2 separate regions of the Homo sapiens genome follow, and region 2 is linked to region 1. Evidence: fine-mapped expression QTL. A gene starts in region 1. The other region holds a variant in brackets. All regions are shown on one strand. Distances are from middle to middle.

Region 1 (2,834 bases):
CGACGGAATTGCTTGACCTCGAAAACAGTCAGCATTCAGACCACAAGCACATATTGGGCACTCCGTGCCTGTCAATGAGCTGGGGATGGGCAATGGTGTTACAGAGATTAAAAAACGCAGTGTCTGTGTTCAAGGAACTTACCAGGCTAGAAGTCTAGAGTCACGGGGGCCAGTCTGGGTAACAGAATTAGGCCAATTTATTTAATTCCATTTGTTCATGTATCCAGCCAACAGATATTTATGGTGCACTTGTTGGGTGCCAGCCCCGCCCCCACCACTCCACCCTACCCCAGCAGGCGCTAAAGGAGAGCTGACATGATGGATAACGAAAAAGAAGACGCTGTCCTTCTATTCAGGGAGTTTAACATCTGGAAGAGCCGGGAGTTCTTTGTGCTAAAGGCCCTCTACAAAGTGCCTGAGATGCAAAAATAAGTCACTTTCTCTGTCCTCTCAGCAACCGAGTCGCATGTCGTTATCAAATTTTTATTTTCTGTAACTGTTTCCTTCCGTCTTGCTCCGTAGACAGCTTTTTGCAGCAGAGAGCGCTGCCGCGGGGCTGGTGTCTACTCTTCAGTAAGTGGTCAAAACCTGGCTACTGGAAGGAAATGCAATGGAATCGCTCCGCGCTCGAGTATTCTCTTTGGAACTACGGGAATGACAGCTCCAGTGGGACACTTGGAGGTCATGATGAACGCAAAGAACGTGAGAACACTTGCAGTCCTCGGGGTGGAAATGCCTTCTAGAAATACTAAGTATCCGTTCTCTCGTTGAGACTTTGGCAAACCAGGGATTTTAGGAAGGGTCTGGCACTCAACGTTCCTAAAATTGGTTTCCTAGATGGAGCCGGAGGGAGAGAGGGAGTCAGGAACTGCTGCTTTTCGTCGGAATGCCCGGAGGGGAGAAGAAGAAGGAGGAGGGGTGAGGGCGGGCGGCCAAACGCCAGCCGGCAGGGGACCCAGAGAAGAGGGACATCCCGGGCGACCCCGAGGAGCGCGGCTTGGGCACCGCAGTGGCCGCGGCTAGTGGGAGACCTGAGGGGAAAGGGAGAGGGCAGGGGCGAGGAACCCAGGGAGCGCGCGCGGATTGGTCCTCTCCTCGGGGCGTGCGCTCCTGTGCGCCAAATGATTGGTGGCAGGAAAGTAGCAGGTAAACCGGCTCCCGCCGCCTCGCCATTGGTCAGCGGCCTCTCTAGCCGCCACACAACTGGCCAGCGGGCTGCCGAGCCGCGCGCGGATTGGCTGGGGGCGGCCGCCGGGACCGGCTCCCTTCGGGCGTTCGGATTGGCTGGCGGGAAGAGGCAGGTATCCGGGCGCTGCGGCTCCTCCATTGGTGGGCGGGGAAGGGGGGTTGGGCACAGCGATTGGTGGGCGGGGGGCCGGGCCTGGGCCGGCGGGGAGCGGATTGGTCGGAAAGTAGGTTAGTGGTGCGACATTTAGGGAAGGCAGAAAGTAGGTCAGGGACGGAGGTGCCTGTTTACCCGCGCCGGACTCACCGCCGCCGCCGCCGCGGGATCCGAGTGCGGGCGCGGGCGCGGGCGCTCCCGGCGAGCCACGGTGAGTGTCAGGCCGGCGGCGGCCAGCGACGCGATCCCGCGCACCCCGTCGGGGGCCGTTAGCACCCTCGCGGGCGCTGCGCCCCTGCCGCCGCCCCGGGGGCAACCCGGCCGCCGAAGAACCCTGCCCGACGTGCCCGCTGCCGGCCTTAAAGGGCCCGTGACCGCTCCCTGCCCCCACCCGGGCCGTGGGGAGGCTGCGCCCCTTAAAGGCGCCGCGCCCGTCCGCCCCCATCCTCCTCGCGGGGGCTGCCGCTGCGGGCTAGGGCAGGCAGAGGTGCTGCAGGAGCCCTTAAAGGGGCCGGGAAAGTGTTCGCTGGAGTACCCACCGCCCTTCCGCGGGCATCGCTACCTGGCGGGGGGAGGGGGCAGCTAGCTGCCTCTTAAAGGGATAGCTCTGCCCTTGGGGGCAGTGACTCGGCCGAAGAGGACTCCTAGATGTGTCCCCGGGAGCTTCGGGGATCCCCGAGGGGACCATGCCTGGTGGCTGCCCCTCAAGGGCGTTGGGCGAACGGTGCCGCGTCTGCCCTTCCTCCCCGCTTCACTTCCCTTTCGGGAGCCCGCGAGGCTGGGTGGGGGCGGGGAGGGCGTCTCCGTCGGGCTTGGGGAGTCCAAGTCCGCCCGCCCCTTCGGCCCTGTAGCCAGGGCTGGCGCTGCACCCGGGAATCCCCGGCCGGCACGGGGCCGACCCCAGCCTGCGAACTTTCGTGGGGCCTGTGCCGTCCAGGTCCTGGGCGGCCCTCAAGGATGCCCCGTGGGTCTGCGGGCAGGTGCGCGTCGGCCTGGGGATGTCGCCCGGAGCCCGGGTGCGGGCCGGCCTTGGAGTCCCAGAGCTCCGCGGAGGGCGCAGCGAGCCTGGCTCCAGCTCCGGGTTTGACAGATGTCAGGGAAGAAAAGGTTCCCGCTCGGCTATTGCCGGGCGTTGACATCCCAGAGAGCTTCCCGTTTGCTTGGAAGAAGACGAGGAAGGTAGAGGTGAACGTCGACCTTGTGGGGCGCATGTTAGCCTCCCCGAGGGGTCGCGAGAGCCGGCAGCGGGGTGAGCTCAGGTGCCCGCCGGCAGGAGCTGGGGAGGGAAGGGGAGTGCTGGACACCGGCGCCTGCTGTCAAGTTCTCGCCGGCCGGTGAGAGACCCGCTGCCGCCGCGCACCCCGCACCTCCTGACCCCTCTCCCCTCTCCGCCTCGGCCCCTTCCCGGTCACCTAGCGTTGTTTTGGCGCTTTGGCGCTTGCGGTCTCTTCCTTCTTCCACCGCTACTCCTCAGCGAGGAATTATTAGCCAA
Region 2 (2,906 bases), 290 kb before region 1:
TACACTATATTAAAAAATATTTCTGTTAAAAAGGAATTAACTTGGTATCAAAATTAGGCAAGAACCCATTTTATTTATAACTACATTTAAAATTCTAAAACTGGTCGGGCACAGTGGTTCACACTTGTAATCCCAGCACTTTGGGAGACTGAGGTGGGTAGATCACTAGAGATCAGGAGTTCAAGACCAGCCTGGCCAACATAGTGAAACCCCGTCTCTACTAAAAATACAAAAAATTAGCCGGGCGTGGTGGTGTGCGCCTGTAATCTCAGCTCTTGTGATGCTGAGGCAGGAGAATCGCTTGCACCCAGGAGATGGAGGTTGCAGTGAGCCAAGATCGCACTACTGCACTCCAGCCTGGGTGACAAAGTGAGACTCTGTCAATAAATAAATAAAATTCTAAAACAAAGAGAATCCAATAATCAATTATCTCTCTCCCCCTCTCTCTCCATATGTATCATAACTAACAGATTTATTCCAATAATTCTCATCAAAATTTTTCTTTTGAGATGGTGTCACTCTGTTACCCAGGCTAGAGTGCAGTGGTATGAACATAGTTCACTACAGCCTCAACCTCCTGGCCTCAAGAGATCCTCTTGGCTCAGCCTCCCATGTAGCTGGGACCACAGGTGTGCACCATCACACCTGGCTAATTTTAAAAAAGTTTTTATAGAGATGAGGTTTCACTGTATTGCCCAGGCTGGTCTCGAACTCCTTACCTCAAGCAATCCTCCCTCAGCCTCCCAAAGTGCTGGGATTACAGGCATGAGGCACTGCATCTGGCCTAAAATAAACAAACAAACAAACAAACAGTGATTGATTTAGTAAACATTATCTTTTTCTCTGGAAAACTGAGTTACATGGATTTCACAAGGTTACTGACTTTCAATGTATGGCTAAAATTGGTGGTAGATTAATTTATGGACATGCTAGTAACAAAATAGAATTTAATAATCTGTTTCATCCTCTAAGTATTTCTGACATTTTGTTGTTGTTGCTCATTAGTCCCTGGCTACAAATAACCACAAACTCCCTAGTTAAGATGATGTCAGGACTCTCAGACTAGGGAAAAAAGCCACATTCTGGTTGTAAATGAAAATTTAACGGAGAATAAGATATTTGAAAGAGAAAATCATTGTTTTGAGAAAGGAACAAAGAAGCCAGACAAGGTATAAACTTTACCAAATGTTCAAAAAATTCATTTAATATC[G/A]GGCTTTATAATTCATGAAGTTTCTTTTCTTTTGGCTGCCAACTTATCTAATTACAATTCTAGATTGACAGCAAAAATATTTAATATTCTCTGAGGAAATACCCAACTCAGGTGAGACAAGGACAGAGCAATGAAATGGAAGAAAACTGTGAGAAACCAGGGAGACTGTATTAGTCCGTTTTCACACTGCTATAAAGGACTACCTGAGGGCCAGGCATGTTGGCTCACGCCTGTAATCTCAGTACTTTGGGAGGCCGAGGCGGGTGGACCAGCTGAGATCAGGAGTTGGAGACGAGCCTGGCCAACCTGGTGAAATCCCATCTCTACTAAAAATACAAAAATTAGCTGGGCATAGTGTCGGGCGCCTGTAATCCCAGCTACTCGGGAGGCTGAGGCAGGAGAATCACTTGAACTCGGGAGGCGGCGGTTGCACTGAGCCGGGATCACGCCATTGCACTCCAGCCTGGGAAACAGATGAGACTCCGTCTCCAAAAAAAAAAAAAAAAAAAAAGAACTACCCGAGACGGAGTAGTTTATAAAGAAAGGAGGTTTAATTAACTCACCGTTCCGCATGGCTGGGGAGGCCTCAGGAAACTGCAGAGGGTGAGAGGGAAGCAAGCAGTTTCTTCACAATGCAGCAGGAGAGAGAGAGAGAGTGAGGTAGGAAGTGCCACACTTTTAAGCCGTCAGATCTCGTGAGAACTCACTCATCATCACGAGAACAGCATGGGGCAAACCGCACCACGATTGAGTCACCTCCCACCAGGTCCCTCCCTAACATGTGGGGATTATAATTCAAGATAACATTTGGGTAGGGACGCAGAGCCAAACCATATCAGAGACAATCCACGAGGGCCATGAGGTCGGCTCAGCCCTGATGTACTCTGGAAATCCTGGAATCAATGTGCCCATAGAGGGATGTGTGACAGGGAGGAGGGATCCTAGAGGGTCATGATATGACCTGGAGGCAATGAGATCAAATTCCTGGTCCTGCTAAGCCCCCAAATCGTAAGAGTTTACATGCTTTCAGGTATTTCTGGACTGTGCTTTTTAACGTCTCAAAACCTTTTTACATACATCACCTCATTTGAGCCTGATACAGACTAGTGAGCTAGGTGAGGGCTGGTTCTTCTCTATCTAGGTGAGGAAAGTGACAATCGGGAAGAGAAAGGACAAAAACCACTGCATGTTAATGGAAATAAATGACAAGGAGAAACAAAACAAAGGCAAGGACTCCATGGTGATGAAAGAAAGGCACATTGCCCAGGAAGGGAAGTGGAGGCCATGGCCCCACTTCTGCTCCTGACCCCAACCAGGAGACCACCAAGTTGAACCCAAGGGTGTGGCTGAAGATGTGCCTGGTCTTCTAAGATGTTTGCTGTCCAACTGCTGGTGTTGAACCTCCACTCCTCCTAGTTCCTTAATCATGTAGATAAGTCTATTTACATCCTCCACTAATACCAACTTTTACAGTGGAACGGGGTAAAGCCCTAAAAAGTATTTGTTACTGTAATGTACCATATAGTGGTAATTATTATTATAAGAAAGTAACTTGTAAACTGCCAAGTGCTATACAAATGTCCATTATCATTATTATGATGATGATTAGATAATGATCATGTTGGTTTTTCTCCAACCCAAGGAGTGCTCATTCAGTCCCATCTTTTCTTCTTCAATTTCAGTAGCTTCCCTATCC

The links. PIP is the estimated chance that this variant, and not a neighbour inherited with it, causes the effect.
Region 2: its variant is the best candidate, but not a certain one, in a credible set for the expression of BMAL1 in whole blood (INTERVAL, PIP 0.77).

The regions. Positions count from the first base shown.
Region 1 is chr11:13,276,371-13,279,204 of GRCh38, forward strand. It overlaps BMAL1 (basic helix-loop-helix ARNT like 1), which reads left to right and starts at 1,420. Exons shown (of 20, transcript NM_001297719.2): 1 at 1,420-1,553. RefSeq lists silencers at 1,021-1,670, 1,741-1,810, 2,091-2,430.
Region 2 is chr11:12,987,683-12,990,588 of GRCh38, forward strand. LINC00958 (long intergenic non-protein coding RNA 958) reads right to left here and starts at 1,866. Exons shown (of 2, transcript NR_038904.1): 1 at 1,774-1,866. The variant G/A (reference allele first, on the strand shown) is at 1,211.